2 separate regions of the Homo sapiens genome follow, and region 2 is linked to region 1. The links come from fine-mapping of genetic effects on gene expression. A gene starts in region 1. The other region holds a variant in brackets. All regions are shown on one strand. Distances are between the middles of the regions. Region 1 holds the start of LINC03082 (long intergenic non-protein coding RNA 3082). Region 2 holds the start of LINC00396 (long intergenic non-protein coding RNA 396).

Region 1 (8,332 bases):
ACGTAATTTGAACTGGGCCCCCCAGGATGGCTCTCTATGGTGCTGGCTCATTCAAGCACCTATCAGTGGATGGTCAATTGCTTCACTTATATCTGGCATTGGCTGGGGGGCCGGAGGCATATCCTGCTCATCGCCCTGCAGCACAGCCTCTTCCTGTGGTGCCACACAGTCAGAGTTCCCAAGAGCAGCAAGAGAGAGGCCTCAGTGCAAAAGCACTTAGCCTCTGCTGATGTCACATGTGCTGATGCTTCCTTGGCCAAAGGAAAGCACATGGCCAAGCCCAGATTCAGGGCTTGGTACCATGAACTCTACCTCTTGAGGTGGGGACAGGGGCCACAAAGTCACATTGCAAAGGGATGCGAATATAGGCGCAGAAATAATATACTGTTTTTCTTTTTATTTGCCATAATATACTTATGTGATATCCTTATCTGCCATAATATCCTTAACATAATGTTAAAGATTGATCATATATTCCTAAGAGAGAAATAGGATCGTATAATTCTAACCTGTCACAATATTATTGACATTTTACTGGACTTTCTAGACATAAAATGAAATTCTAATTCCCAAGAGCTTTTCCCCCAGTATTTAACATTCTTTTCTGGGCTAGATTTTTCGCCGGTCTCCCCTCTCCTTTACTACCAGGTTATTGAAGCTGTTCTTTTAAAACTACAAGGAAGAAGAAACAGAGCGCTCCCGGGAAATGTTGAAAAAGCAGAGCCCCATTCATCACAGCACAGGTTGAAGAGACCAGCTCTCCCCGATATTGGCAGAATTTCCATCACAGGTGAGGGTGTGTGTCCTACAACCCCAGCATTTAACTAAAAAGCAATTCTGTGTATGAGCTTCACGAAAAGGCAGAAATGAAGCAGTGCCCATAGGGTCTCCCTCCCTCGCCCTGCCTTCTCCTTTTAAATGCAGCTCTCTCCTTCCTGGGCCAGGATGATGTGGAACCGTTGCATGCGAGGGTTTCTAAGGGGGCGTTGTGAGGAGTCATCATCAGCAACCAATACTGCCGTTCTCACCAGTGTGAAACAGGCAGCCCCACCCCAGGGGCAGGCCCTCTTCCCCTGTGCCCTGGCCTCCCTGGCTCCAGGCATCCTGACTCCAGCCGAGAGCCCCCACCCTTTGCTGAGCTCTGAGTCCTGTCCAGCTGAGCTCCCTGGGGGCCTGTGAGTTTCTGCCTCTTTTCCTGCAGCCTCCTGTGCACTGGCAGGTGGCATCTCTGCCACTCTCCTTAGAGATGAGCCTACACACTCATTTTCTCTTTTTTTCTCTGGACAAAGGAATAAGCTTTTGAAAAGCAAACTGACAGATGAGAGCAGTGAAATCCACTGAGTGGGCCGTGGAGAACAGCTGTGTTTGAGAGGCATCTCAGCGATGTGAATGAGGCCAGGAGGAGCCATGAAGACGGCACTGCCTGTGGGGCCCCCGATAAATGATGGCACTGAGCAATTGGCAGGACTGTGGGCATGGGAGGGGTCCCTAGGCCCCACCCCCCTCTGCTCCTGTTTGTGTAATTAACAGCCCGCTTCCTATCAGGTGCTCTGCCTTCAGTGCTCTCTGCTGCGGCTCTTACCAGCGAGGACTGGAGGGGCGGCTCCTTTACCTGCCCTGTCCTGGTTTTTGCTCCCGCCTGCCCCGTGAGCCAGGGGATGCACTCACAGCTGCTCTTTTTGATGTATAAAGTGTGTTTGAACATTATGCCAAATATCAAAATGTGAAGGACTAATCCAGGATGCAAAAACGTTATGGGGGGTTGTAAATACGAACTATACAACAGTTTAGGATGCAATTATGAGTGTAAACTGTGTGCCTTATTTATACTTCATTGTCTCCAGCTTCTCAGATAAAGTTTTGATGTGTTGTACAGTGGAATATCTTAGATACTTTTTGGAAAGTTTTTACATAAGTTATATCACAATTAAAATGTTGAATTTCAAAAAAAAAAAGAGGCATTCGTTTGAGATTGCCTGGGGTCCTGTGGTTTGCTGAATAAGACTCAGTGTGGGGAACTGTAGACTCTTCCTGAGAAGCTCAATTCCAAAAGGAAAAGGAAAATGCCGACTGGGATTCCCTGACAGGCATTGGTTAGCTGCTGTCTCTGTCCACTGATAACTGGAGCTTTCAGAAAGGCATCCTCTGCAGCCCAGCATCAGCTTCTCCGCCTGCTGTTCCCTCCGGGAGGCGGCCCGCACCTCAGAAGCAGACACCGTTGTGCCTGGGTCCGGTGGCGTCTGGCCAACAGGGGCTGGATGGGGGGCAACAGCAGCAGGAGGAGGACAGAGGAGGTGTTTACTCAGGGTCTCCTGTTAGGGTGCTGTGGGGTGTTGGGTTTCTCTGCTGGAAGCTGCAGCTCTGGTCACCACCTTCTCAAACTATAGGGCTGCCCACCGGGCATGGTGGCTCACGCCTGCAATCCCAGCACTTTGGGAGGCCGAGGTGGGTGGATCACCTGAGGTCGGGAGTTCGAGACCAGCCTGACCAACCTGGAGAAACCCCATCTCTACTAAAAATACACAATTAGCCGTGTATGGTGACACATGCCTGTAATCCCAGCTACTCGGGAGGCTGAAGCAGGAGAATCGCTTGAACCCGGGAGGTGGAGCCTCCTCCCATCTGCCCCCTCCCTTGGGCTTTCTGGAGGGATGGACAAAGTACAGTATTAAGGCTACTGCTTCTCTCTGTGCAAACAGCCCTCTTCCCATTTTAGGAAGGGAGTTGTCTATGCTGGAGAGACCCCCATGAACCAAGGAGCAGCTCAAAGCGAGCTTCCATGTCCTTCCAGGGGTCTGCGGATCTTCTGCTACTCTTTTAGCATCTCTGCTCTCCTCCCCTTCCCAGGCTCTGATAGAACCCTGAGGGCCTCACTTCCCTTGCTCCTGGACTTGCAACTAGGAATACATTTAAAAAGTCTCCTCCAGAGGAGCACAATTCCAGCTAAGCCGTTTGTTGTTGCTGTGAGCCGAGATCACGCCATTGCACTCCAGCCTGGGCAACAAGACTGAAACTCCACCTCAAACAAAACAAAACAAAACAAAACAAAACAAAACAAAACAAAACACTATGGGGCTGCCCTCCAGGGCCATGGATAAGACTTCTTCCCCCTCTCTGCAGCCCTGAGGCTGGTGACCCCTGGTTTAGTGGACTAAACATTACTGCTTTTCCTAAACTCTGCCCCTATCTTGGTAAAATGTCCCTTCATCCTAAGGTCCTTAATGTCAGCTGTTCGCTGCAGCATCCTGACTAATGCACAGCTGAGAGGCAGTCAGAAGCCAGCAACAATGAGGGTGATTTTAAAAGACCATGACGAATGTGTACACAGAATACTCAGTGGCCCCAATCCCATACAGGTGCTGAAGGTGGGCTACGAACTGCACACTAAGGTTCTGTAGGGAAATGAATTAGGATTGGTGGTAGATTTTCCACTGAATCTTCTTGTAATACAGTTCTCTAAGTGCTTCCCTGTACCCACAGTTCTAAATGATCTTCAGTGGAGCGTATTTGTCTGTGTGTGTGCGTGGGTGCCTTAATACTTCTGGAAGCATCCTCTTAACCCACTGTTTTCATTTATACACATATCACCTGTTTCATGGCTAGGACTTGGTAGGATTAGACATACATGGGCCAAAGGTAACTTCAGTCAGACCCTGTTTAATTATAAAATGGCAGAGTAAAATAGATCTAATATGTCAAGGGACACACCTTAAAGCTTATCCAGCCTGAAGAACATTAATGGTAAGTAGAAACAAGCGAACAAAGAAAACCTTTTGAAGTGGCAACAGAGGGGAGGGGTGGGTGCTGGCTCCTACTGAGTTGAGGACAGAGCCATTCCTCTCACTGATGTGCTTCTTCCCTGGAGGTGAGTGTGGGGTGCATGTGGGTGTGCGTGGGGTGGATCCCATGCTGGTGCCAGGACTGCCAAAGTGTGCGTTGGTGGGAAAGAGAAGGAAGGGAGAGCAGGATCCAGTGTCCATTGTGCTGATTTTTTGTGGACACAGAAATGAGAAGGCAGAGAAGATGTCCAAGTCTTCTGTAGGAGAGCTCACCCTCTCCTGGGTAGTTAAGGTCAACCACACTGCATCCGGATCCTGCCAGGAACTTGGAACGCCCAGAGGGCTGGCAGCGACGCAGTGCTGGACATTCCCACCCCACCCGGGCTGCTGCGCTGGGGGCAGCCGGATCCACAGAGATGCAGAAGATGTTGTGGGAAGAGACCATGGGAGAGCCACAGAAGCAGAAGCGCCTCCCTCCCCACTCCCTGCACACCCACCCCCTAAGCTGGGAGCGCCCAACATGCAGCCAGAAAAAAAAAAATCGTTGAAGGCCGGTTCACATCTACTGCCTAGAGAGCAAATCCTCACTGATGTCAATTTCACGTATATGGAAGTGAATATATTCACTTCCTAGGCTGCTGAAACGAAGTGCCACAAACTGCCTGGCTGAAAATAACAGGAATTTGTGTCTCACCATTCTGGAGGCTGGAATTCTACGATCAAGGTGATGTCAAGGCCAGACTGTCTCTGAGGCTCGGGGTAGAAGCTGTCCTGCCTCTTCCCGGTTTCCGGTGGGGCCAGCGGTGCTCGCGGATGCTCCTGCAGGCTTGTACATGCGTCGTCACAACCTCCGCCTTCAGCCACACCCCGTGTTCTTCTTGTGTGTCTCGGTCTTCACGTGGCGTGCCTCTTTTTTATAAGGACAGTGGTTTTATTGGATGCGGGGCCCACCCCATTCCAATGTGACCTCGTTCTAATTAATTACATCTGCAAGGACCTTATTTCCAAATAAGGTGACATTCTGAGGTCCTGGGGGTTAGGACTTCAACATCATTTTTGGAGAAAACCATTCGACCTTTGACAATGCCCAAGTAAAACGGTTTCATTTTTAGCGAGTGGACGTTCGAGTTCTCTATTTGAGGCATTTTTCTCAAGGATTTCTAACAATAGCTCACGTTATAGGTTGCGTTTATTTTTCACCATAATGATTTTTAAAATGTCAAAGCCTTGGCCCAACGACATGGGTGAGTTTGTTTTTATTGTTAGAAAGGATTCTATGCTGCTTTCAAATGTCTGCAGGTTTATTTTTAGCTGGACAGGAAGTGCATCTTACGCTTATGTTGGTTTGTAGGCTGCCCCCTTTTTTGGAGGAATGTTATTGTTAGAAAACCACGTTCAGTTTGGAGATGAGTTTGGATTGAGCACCACGCAAATCTAAGTTATAATTATACTACTCTCCGCTATAGATTTTCCAAAATAATCTTTCTGTTCATCAGAATTTGAAACCTTTCAAATAATGGTTCCGTTTGTTATTCACAATTTCACAGCCCAGCAGCTGCCTTTTATTTGTCTTTAAATGAAAGGTCAAGAGGTTTTGATGTAACCTGGGGTTGAATTGAAGGTAGCATGTCCATGTAGTGAGATGTAAAGTGAAAAATAAAAAAAAAAAAACATAAAAATGCTATGTCGTGACCACAAGATACCAGAATCATTCTTATTTGTTATGACTAAACATCCAGTTATTTCAAAGGGAGGGAAATAGTTCAATCCAGAGCTTACCTAAATTTTTCATTGTTTCAGCAAAGGGGCTTGTGATTTGGGGGAAGTTTAGTTCTTAAGTAGAGGACCTTTCCATCAGACAAGCTGCTTGTATTTGTTGCTGGTGCCACGGATAAGCTAGTATTTCAGAAGAGAGCAAGGTAATCCCATCCTAATGCCGTAATGAGGGTCACAGTGAGGTACGGGAAACGGTGGGACTTTCCACCTAAAAATATCTGCCAGCAGTTATATTGTCAGTTGGCTGTGATCTCCACCTCCAGCAGTGAACCTTCGGGGAGGAGGTTCTTTGACCTTCCTTGGTGTGATTGCCTGGGGAAAGTGATCATTTCATGGAATCGTGTCTGTTTCTCCATCCTCTTCTTTGAGGGACTTCTGAATGAATAAGGTATCACTCTCACACCCCAAACCAACACTTTAACCCTCTGTTGAAATACTATTTAAAGGATGGTTGCATGAGGATGGATTCTATTTTTGCCTGTGACCAAACACAATGAGTCTTAAAAAATAGCCTAGATTTCTTTCTGCTTTGCCTTGAGTGATGATTACAAACACCCCAGCCTTCCACGTTGGTAAGGGCCACTCTCAGGTTCACTAGTATATCTGATGGTGACCACTTACTAAGGTGCCTCCTGTGAGCCGGGCACATATCATGTGTGTGGCACGTCCCATCTCATTTACTCCTTACAACAGCCAGATGAGCTACAACACCCAGATGGTGCTCCCTATATCGCCTTTACAGAGAGGTGACATGGTGGTATGGAGGTAGCCAGGAAAAACCGCGCGGAGGCTCCGACCATCCATCTCTTTGCTTTAGGCCTGGGATCACTTGCAGATGAACCATCTGCCCCCTCCCTTGGGCTTTCTGGAGGGATGGACAAAGTACAGTATTAAGGCTACGCTTCTCTCTGTGCAAACAGCCCTCTTCCCATTTTAGGAAGGAAGCTCTTTATGCTGGAGAGACCCCCATGAACTAAGGAGCAGCTCAAAGCGAGCTTCCATGTCCTTCCAGGGGTCTGTGGATCTTCTGCTACTGCTTTAGCATCTCTGCTCTCCTCCCCTTCCCAGGCTCTGATAGAACCCTGAGGGCCTCACTTCCCTTGCTTCTGGACTTGCAACTAGGAATACATTTAAAAAGTCTCCTCCAGAGGAGCACAATTCCAGCTAAGCCAATCATCCATTCGAACCTTCATGTCTTGGGTTATCGGTTTTCTACTGCAAGGGACGCACCTCGTTCCTTGGAGGGTTACATGGGGTTTGTTGATGGTGTAATCAATTGCCCATGTGATTTGGAAAGACAAACTCGGCGGGTTGAAGCAGGATGTATCCTTCCACATTTTAATTGCTCCCAAGAATGATCAGATAATTGCCTTCCTTTGAAGGATCCATGAGAATGTGCTGAAGTGTCCCAGCAAAACAAAAGAGAGTCTCTGAGCGGCTTCTATTCTTGTCTGGCTCTGTTGACAGCGATTGAATGCTCTGGGGAAGAGAAAAGGCTGGCAGGGAGCCTGGGCCCAGAGGAACGTGAGGAGAGCTGGGCCCCCTCCGAGAGACGTTAGTGTGCTGTGCTCATTAGAAGGAGAATGTGCCACTTGTACTGCCTTCTGCTTACTGCCCCTCCTCCAGGGAGGACTTGTTGAAGGCATGAGAAAATATGAAGCCCGACCCCAGGGCTGGCAGCTGCCGCTGCACCGGAGAGCCTGCCTCCGGGAGCCAGGGACGGGCCGACCTGAGCACACACTTCCTTCCTAGCCTTGTTACAAACATTCCTGTGAGATGGGCAATTCTAAAAGGCTTGGCTGGCTTTAAATGGAGATTGTGAAAAGGCTTAAGCACTTTTGTGAAGTCAGATGTGACTCATCTCCTGCCTGTCCTTATGACCTGCTCGTCCAAACAAGTGGATGCATTGGTGAGAAAAGAAAAGGAAAGAAAAAGGAAAAAGGAAAGAAAAAGGAAAAAGAAAAGAAAATACAACCTCGGTATTTACTTTTTTGGTGGTTTCTATGCTTGATTGTCAAAATCCCTGTGGAGATTGGTCAAAGCAACAGTTTCTGGTGTGACCGGGGACCCTGGCTGCGTTCAGGTGCTGGTTTCTAATGGAGAAGATATTTCTTTTTGTGTCCAAGAGTCATGGGTTGGGTGGTCTGGGGGTGAGATGATGTCAGGGTTCAGGCCACAGGGTGTAAATGCAGAAGGACTTCGACATTGCGGACTCCAAAGTCCTACAGGCAGGCTGGGCACAGGCAGGCCCCAGCACAGTGCCTGAGACGGACCTCTGTGTCTTGAATGAGATCACCAGTCCTGGTGGGTATTTCAAGGTTGTTATAAAGTCAGGCAATGGGACCAAGACAGAAGCTTTGAGGACAGAAACAGTGGTTCTATGAGTAGTTCAGTAATGCAGAATCAGGGCCACAGGAAGCTCAGCTTCTGCAAGCTGGTGGCTGCCTCCGTAAAACATGGGTCTTTACAAGGCTCGTGGCCGCTGCAGTTATCTGGGGTGTGCACTGGCTTTTATTCTGATCACTTGTGAGTCTACCTGTCTCCCTGTGTATTTAGTTGCCCTTCTGTTGTAAAGGGTTTAGGGCTTGGGAAGGGCTGGATTCCTGCCCCCAAGTCCTCACCCCTCCCTTGGACTAGTGCCATTGGACTGTGCCTTGGTTGTGTCCATGGACAGTTGTGCATGTGAACAGGCTTGACCACGTGCCCGGTGCACCAAGACATAAGGGCACCAAGTGCATCTCCTCACACCTCTTGCTCTCCTGAGCTCTGTCAGGAGA
Region 2 (8,332 bases), 73 kb after region 1:
GTATTCTCCAGGCTCTTCAATCTTTCAATAAAATGTTGCAAACCAGGGCTGGGCACCGTGGCTCACGCCTGTAATCCCAGCACTTTGGGAGGCCGAGGCGGGCGGATCACCATGTCAGGAGTTCGAGAGCGGCCTGACCAACATGGTGAAACCTCGTCTCTACTAAAAATACAAAAAAAATTAGTCAGGCCTGGTGGTGGGTGTCTGTAATCCCAGCTACTCGGGAGGCTGAAGCAGGAGAATCGCTTGAACCCACGGGGCGGAGGTTGCCGTGAGCCGAGATCGCGCCATTGCACTCCAGCCTGGGCAACAGAGCGAGACTCTGTCTCAAAAAAAAAAAAAAAAAAAAAGGTTGCAAACCAGTCATTGCTGATGGGCACACCTAAAATACTGCTTTATATTTTTAATTGCCTAAAATACTTTATAATTGATTTCTTATAAGAGGTGAGTCGGGTCATTGGTGGAGATAGTTATCCTATTTTTTCTTTATTCCACTTTCAACTTTTTTCGGGGATTGGAGTAGAAGAAATAAAGAAGTGCCAGGCCCAGGAAAGAAATTAACTGATGAGCTAAGTCTGGAAGTAGTGGATTGGAAGGTTGATTGAACTGTGACTACAAGCTGGAAATGCAAGAAAAAACGACTGGAGAGAGATTGCTCTTCTTATATTCCTATGAAGAATCACAGTCACCATTTGAAATCTTATTTATTAGGACGTGACATGCCATGGACTGGCTAGCTTAGGAACAGACTGTGAGCTCCAGGAGTCAGGAACTAGGTCCACCCCAGAGAAATCTACAACTTCCCAAATAGTCTGAATATGCTTTGCAGAGAAGAAAAATCTACATCATTTTCAAAACTCCCTTTGGATAAAAGGTTCACATCTGGCAAAATGAAAGAACTGTGATGACTGTATCATTTTTAAGAGGGAACAATAATGTAAAATTTAAGGTAAGGGGGTAAAATAAATTGCCAGTAACTATGGCAGATATCTTCCTTCAGTAGTGAAGTGCCTTCAGTAGTGCCTTCAATAGTGTAGTTGTGAATCAAAGTGTTACAAATATTAGTCAATATTATAATGCAGACTATTAAAGGGGGCTTCCATTTGAGACGGAGTCTTACTCTGTCACCTAAGCTGGAGTGTAGCGGCTCAATCTCTGCTCACTGCAACCTCCACCTCCCGGGTTCAAGTGATTCTCATGCCTCAGCCCCCCGAGTAGCTGGGATTACAGGCACGTGCCACTATGCCTGGCTATTTTTTTTTTTTGTATTTTTGATAGAGACGAGGTTTCACCATGTTGGCCAGGCTGGTCTTGAACTCCTGGCCTCAAGCAATCCACCTGCCTCAGCCTCCCAAAGTTCTGGGATTACAGGCATGTGCCTGTAAGTATTATATTAATATTTATCTTTATATCCTAACTAATAGTAGTGGGTATCCCATTTAACAAGGGATTCTACTAAAAATATCATATTCAGTAGTCTCTTTTCACCCTTAATGACCTTTCAAGCCAAGACATTTCTCAAAATTCAGAGCTGTTAAAATATATCAGTATGTTAATATACTTTCAATATCTGTTTTATTGTTTTAATTTTTTAAAATTTTAAGTTAGTTTTTTATTACAAAAGTAATGTATGTATGCTTATGGACAAAGTTTCAAATGTTACTGAATGGCACAAAGTGAAAAGCAACATTTCTTTCTGAATCCCTGCCTTGTCCCTACAAGCTCACCACTCTGGACATTTTTTGGTGAGCATCCTTCCAGAAATGTTTACTCAAATGCTATTCTACTTCTGCAATTTGCTCCCTGCCTTCACGGAATATTACTTGGACCATTTTCCATGTCAGCAAATATATGTCTACCTCATTCTTTTAAAAGACCGTGTGCTGTTTGGGAGGACATTCTATAATAATTTTAACAGACATCTATTTGTGAACACTTAGCTTCCTTCCAACTGTTTTTCCAGCTTCAGGAAATTGCTGCAGGGAACATTGTACAACATATACCTGCAGCCTTGATCAAGTATTAAGTACATTTCTGGAAGTGGAATCACTAGTATAAGGGGGGCTTGCATTTTGAATCACTGATTGCTACTGTAAAAATGCCCTGCACGGAGGCTGTAGCCAATTCCACTCAAGTGAAAGGATGTTTGTTTATTCCTGGCCTCACTGAAAATTACCAAGCTCTTTATCTCGTTTTTTGTCTAGCAGGTAAAAACCTATGTCTTCTTTTTATTTAAAGTTCCTTTATAATTATATGTTAAATGTGTACATATTTTAATGTTTGTCTGTGTTTTTAAACTTTACTTATTTTTATGTAAGGTGATTTAAGTTTTTTTCTTCTGTCAATTTGTGAGTAGTATTTGCATAGTAAGGAAATTGGGTCTTGATATGTTTTCTATGTTGTAAATATTTTTAAGTGGATTTTTAATTTGTTTATGGTATTTTAAAAGCATGCATTAGTTTAATTTGTTTGATGTTTGCATAGTCATATATGCTAATCATGTTCTTCCTGACTTCTGGGAGATGATGTATTTTTAAAGCTACTTTGATTCTGTTCTCCCACTCTTTTCTCTTGCTATGTTGGTCATACTTTTTATTTGCAAGAGAAAGAAAAAAGGTTTTTGCTGATTTTTTCCTTCAATTCTTTATCTCATCAAGGACAATTTTAAGGGGTATCATAGCCCTGCCGTACGCCAGAGGGGTGCAGTGAACTAAGGCTTTGCGTGTGCTGAGGACAGGATTACTTTGTTGAGATCCTCGCATGCATATATGATCACAGCCCAGGAGGGCAGTACAGCCAGGCGGCAGGTGAGGGCAGCCCAGGGCTTGGGAGATTCCTACATTTCAGGATGGCTTTGGTGTCTGCAGGTCACATATAATTTAATGTTTTCAGTTACACTGTATCAACTTTAAAAATAATTCGGTGAGGGAAGGAACCTCGATCTTGGCATCCTGGGGTTCTGGGTTCTGACCTCTGTCCTGGCATCCCGAAGGGTCTGATGATGTTTGCTGGATGTGTGGCAGCTCCAGGGCTCGGCTGCCTCTTTTTGGTTATTTGGTTTCTTGTTCCTCCCAGTGACTGAAAACCCCTCCCTCCCTGGCTTTTTATAGAAGCTAAGAAAAGAGCTTATTTTGTGACTGCATCCGGACCTTGAGTTCTTTGGCTCTTGTGTGAGTGGATGGTGACACCAGGCCAGCTGGGGATTCTTCCCAGGCTGGGCTCACAGGCTGGGGCTGGGCACACGGAGCAGCTGCGGGAAAAGGATCTGGACACCAGCCCCCCAGCGTGTCACCGGCAGGAAGGTGAGGTGGGAACAGAGTGACGTCCATGCATGTTCAGGTGAGGCCTTTGTCTTTTCTTTGCTTGCGCAGTGGGACTTCATGCTTTAACTTGCATC[G/A]GGTGACCAGAAAATGGCAGAGGAGCCCCACCCTGGGCAGTGATTTTAATATTACGATGACATTCAAATGAGGAGAAAGGCGTGAGGGTCAGGCTGCAGTCCCTCTGGTCTTCAGGCAGCTGGACCTGGTCAGGTCCTTATAGGGAATGCCAGAGTCCTGTTTCAGTGACCTCAGAAGGCATCACTCAAAGAGATAGATAGGTCCTTCCTTGTATGGTCAGGAATTCAGCCTGGTCAGCAGATTTAGGAGCACCTCCACCCCTTCCTGCTCCGTGACTCAGTCTACTTGTTAAGGGGTGCAAGTGGGGGAGGGAACGTGCCCGGATGTGTGAGGGCCATCAGGACCTGTGTTGCTTTGTCACATGTCTGCAGGACCCAGTCTCTTTCCTCTCCTGCCTCAATTTGACAGAAAATCAAGACACCTAAGAAATTTGGGATGAAATGTTGTTACGGAAAAAGTGAGGGATGACAGTCCATGAACATGACTTTAGGGACAATAAGGGGTCTAAAAATATCCGACGAAGAACAACATCTCATCCATTTGAAAAGTGAAAAGTGGAATCTTGTTTGAATTTGTATTTCTTTGATGACTGCCAAGGGTAAATATTCTTTCCTTCCTTCCTTTCTCCTTCCTTTCCTTCCTTTCCTTCCTTCCTTCCTTCTTTGAAACAGGGTCTCGCTCTGTTGCCCAGGCTGGAGTGCAGTGGTGCCATCATGACTCAATGCAGCCTTGACCTCCTGTGCTCAAGTGATCCTTCCAGCTCACCCTCCCCAGTAGCTGGGACTACAGGCGTACACCACCATGCCCAGCTACTTAAATTTTTTCTTTTTTTTTTTAGAGACAAGGTTTCCCTACGTTGCCCAGACTGGTCTTGAACTCCTAGCCTCAAGCAGTCCTTCTGCCTCAGCCTCCCAATGTGCTGGGATTACAGGCATGAGCCACTGCACTTGACCAAGGGTAAATATTTTCTGTACGTTAATTACCTTCTGTATTTTTTGCCATGAAACTTAAAACCAATCCCTTTAAAACTTGTTTATATGGATGCCTCCATAAGCAATTCTTTACGTGTATTTAATCAAGCACGGATCTAGGTGTTGCTGTGAAAGTATTCTACAGATGTGCTCAGTCTCTGCAATCAGTTAACTTGAAGTAAAGGAGATTACACTCTGTAATGTGGGTGGGCCTCACCCAGCCAGCCATAGGCCTTACTGTTAAAGACAGAGGTTTCCATAGAGGAAGACGTTCCACCTCAACATGGCAGCACTGGCTCCTGCCTCAGTTTCCAGCTGCTGACCTGCACCACTGATTTTGGATTCGGCCGCCGCACAATCGCATGGCAAATTTCTTAAAATTGTCCTCTCTCTCATCTCCTGTTGGTTCTGTTTTTCTGGAGAAACCTGACTGATACAGTAATGGACAAGATCAGCAGCTGCGTGGAGCCCTATGTCTGAGCTAGGGATGAGGCCTTCGGAATGTCCTTCAGTGTTGACACTAAAACACATCTGCTATTTCTCTCTCATATCATCATTATCAACCAGCAGATCGCCTTGCTCAGAAGAACACTCTAGCTCTGTCATTGTTTTATAAGCTCAAAGAACAAAGAGCTGCCAGTATCTTAACCCCTCCCAAATCTAAATTAAAGGCACCATTGGAAAAGAAAAATGACCTAGATAGAGAAGAAGGGCAAGTACAGTAATTCACAACACCTTGTGCAGAGGCGAACATCTATGCTGACACAGACAAGCTCCTGGAATGCCCCGTTGTGGTGAGACTGTGGTTTCCTCACTGAGCAGGGTTTTCATCTAAAGACTGCCCTGACCCAACAGAGCCTTGAAGCTGTTTGTTGTCTGCTGACTGTGGATCAGGCATCTTGCTGGGCGCTGCAGAGGGCACAACACAAGTAAGGCACATAGAGCTCACAGGCAATGCTTATTTTGGTAGAAACATGAGCAAAGGGTGTTTCTGCTTTATTTGTTTTGTTTTTGCAAGGATGAGAGAGGAATCCAACTAGGTGCATTTGTTCAGAATGCAGGCTAAGGGGGATTCGACAGTCACTATGAGACCAGGTAGGATGGGATAGGGATATGAAGTGGAAGGATGACAATGGAGTCAAATGGAAGGAATCGAATCTATTGCTTAGGCTCCTGTGGCTTCACAGTTTTCTTCAACTGTGTTGCCTACACACTTTATAATAAAATTAAAATTAAGATGATGGCAATCAAATAAGCAATTCACAAGGGCAGATCTTGTTCTGCTTCATTATCTGATTCACCTCTGAGGAGCTTCCTGAAAGCCTGAAAAAAAAGAAGAAAAAGGAAAACACAGTAAGTGACCAAACTTTTGTTTCCAGAAAGTAAGAAAATACTAATTAGGACCCATTTATGAGACACAACAGAGTACTGGTGCTGAAGTATCCCTCTCCACATCAACAAGTAGAAACTGAACAGAATGCATGAAGCACCTGTTTTCAGACACTGAGGACCACAGCCAAGGGTGGGATTCCTGGCGGGTGCGTGGGGTGTGCTCTGGGATTGCTGAGATGCTCTCTCTGGACTGTGGCATGAGCGGGTGGAGCCCATGTACAGCATGGTGGCCTCATGGAGTTGCGGACAGATGGTAGAGGTTGGGGTGTGTGAGGAGGTGGCAAGGTTTGCAGTGGGTGTCTGACAGGATCTGAAGAAATCTGCGGAGAGTCCCCTTGAGCCTCATGGAGAACAAAGAACACTTTGAGCAGAACGGAGAGTCCAGAGTAGCCCACGCAGAAGGTTGGGGAGACCGCACTGCACACCTGCATTCAACAGGGACACAGAACGGCACGCGCCGTGCACGGGTCTCTCTCAGCTGCCAGGTAGGGCTATGCGGGGACTTCTCCAGTTAAACTTACAGGGAAGCCTGCGAAAGTCAGCCAGTCCCACCGATAAATTCACTGCTGACCAAGCAAAACTCAGCAGCCCTTACATCTGACTGATGTCCATATGAGAGAAAAGAGAGGAGGACTTCAGAGACACCCACAGCTCCAACGACAGAGTGCAGCATTTCAGCAGGATGGCATCCTATAATGTTAAACGCACAATTAAAACAATCGCTAGAGGTGAAAAGAAGCAGGGAGATGAACACCATAACCAGGAGGGGAAAAGGTCAGTGGAGACCTACCTGGATGTAGTGGGAATGTGGGAATGAGCAGACGAGGACTTAAAGCAGCTGATATTTCAGAGACTTGAAGCAAAAGAGAAACAAAAAGGTGAATGGCTGGGGATTTTAACAAAAATTCCAAACTATTAAAAAGAATAAAACACAAATTCTAAAGCTGAGAAATATAATATGGGAAATAAAAAAATTTACTGGACTGGCTTACAACAGCTTGGATATGAGAGAAGAAAAGAATAGTGCCTTTGGATGCAGGGCAATAGAAATTATCCAAATGAAGAACAGGGAAAAACTGACAATAATTCTAGATGTGTGTGTGCCTGATAGCAGAGCTTGAAAATACACGAAGAAAATGGCATAACTGGTGGAGAAATAGACAAAATCCACCAAGACAATTCCATGGCTTCAACATTTCTCTTTCAGTGATTGGTAGAACCAACAGACCAAAATTTGGTGAGAATAAAGCATATTTGAACATCATGGCAGAAAGAAAGTAAGTTATTTTCAGAAATCATGCTGGAACTGGATATCCATGTGGAAAAAAGGAACCTCAACTTCCACTTCCTACTCACTGGGTTGACTTGTGTCCTCCAAAGGTTCACACCCACCTGGGACTTCAGAGAGTGACTATTTGGAATTAGAGGCTTTGCAGATGTAATTGAAGATCTTAAGATGACTCATCCTGAATTTCGGATGAATCCTAAATCCAGTGACTGATGTCCATATGAGAGAAAAGAGAGGAGGACTTCAGAGAAACACATAGGAAGAAACCCACTAAAATGGCTATTTTTTAAATTCTTATACTTTAAGTTCTGGGATACATGTGCAGAACGTGCAGGTTTGTTACATTAGGTATACACGTGCCATGGTGGTTTGCTGCACCCATAAACACGTCATCTACATTAGGTATTTCTCCTAATGCTATCCCTCTCCTAGCCGCCGACCCCCAACAGGCCCCCATGTGTGATGTTCCCCTCCCTGTGTCCGTATGTTCTCATTGTTTAACTCCCACTTATGAGTGAGAACATATGGTGTTTGGTTTTCTGTTCCTGTGTTAGTTTGCTGAGAATGATGGCTCCTAGCTTCATCCATGTCCCTGCAAAGGACATGAACTCATCCTTTTTTATGGCTGCATAGTGTTCCACGGTGTGCCACATTTTTTTTTATTATACTTTAAGTTCTAGGGTACATGTGCACAATGTGCAGGTTTGTTACATGTGTATACATGCGCCATGTTGGTGTGTTGCACCCATTAACTTGTCATTTACATTAGGTATATCTCCTAATGCTATCCCTCCCCCCTCCCCCCACCCCACAACAGGCTCCGGTGTGTGATGTTCCCCTTCCTGTGTCCAAGTGTTCTCATTGTTCAATTCCCACCTATGAGTGAGAACACGTGGTGTTTGGTTTTTTTGTCCTTGTAATAGTTTGCTGAGAATGATGGTTTCCAGCTTCATCCATGTCCCTACAATGGACATGAACTCATCATTTTTTATGAATGCATAGTATTCCATGGTGTATATGTGCCACATTTTCTTACTCCAGTCTATCATTGATGGACATTTGGGTTGGTTCCAAGTCTTTGCTATTGTGAATAGTGCCGCAATAAACATACGTGTGCATGTGTCTTTATAGCAGCATGATTTATAATCCTTTGGGTATATACCCAGTAATGGGATGGCTGAGTCAAATGGTATTTCTAGTTCTAGATCCCTGAGGAATCACCACACTGTCTTCCACAATGGTTGAACTAGTTTACAGTCCCACCAACAGTGTAAAAGTGTTCC

The links. PIP is the estimated chance that this variant, and not a neighbour inherited with it, causes the effect.
Region 2: its variant is fine-mapped to the expression of LINC03082 in aorta (GTEx, PIP above 0.99).

The regions. Positions count from the first base shown.
Region 1 is chr13:110,125,548-110,133,879 of GRCh38, reverse strand. It overlaps LINC03082 (long intergenic non-protein coding RNA 3082), which reads left to right and starts at 4,744. Exons shown (of 3, transcript NR_187462.1): 1 at 4,744-5,023. It overlaps LOC101927712 (a long non-coding RNA gene), which reads left to right. Exons shown (of 3, transcript XR_931726.3): 2 at 680-790; 3 at 1,290-1,918. RefSeq lists enhancers at 6,166-6,973, 6,974-7,782.
Region 2 is chr13:110,052,133-110,060,464 of GRCh38, reverse strand. LINC03082 (long intergenic non-protein coding RNA 3082) reads left to right here. Exons shown (of 3, transcript NR_187462.1): 2 at 4,237-4,355. LINC00396 (long intergenic non-protein coding RNA 396) reads right to left here and starts at 7,180. Exons shown (of 4, transcript NR_126387.1): 1 at 7,154-7,180; 2 at 6,552-6,614; 3 at 6,283-6,451; 4 at 5,513-5,692. The variant G/A (reference allele first, on the strand shown) is at 3,398.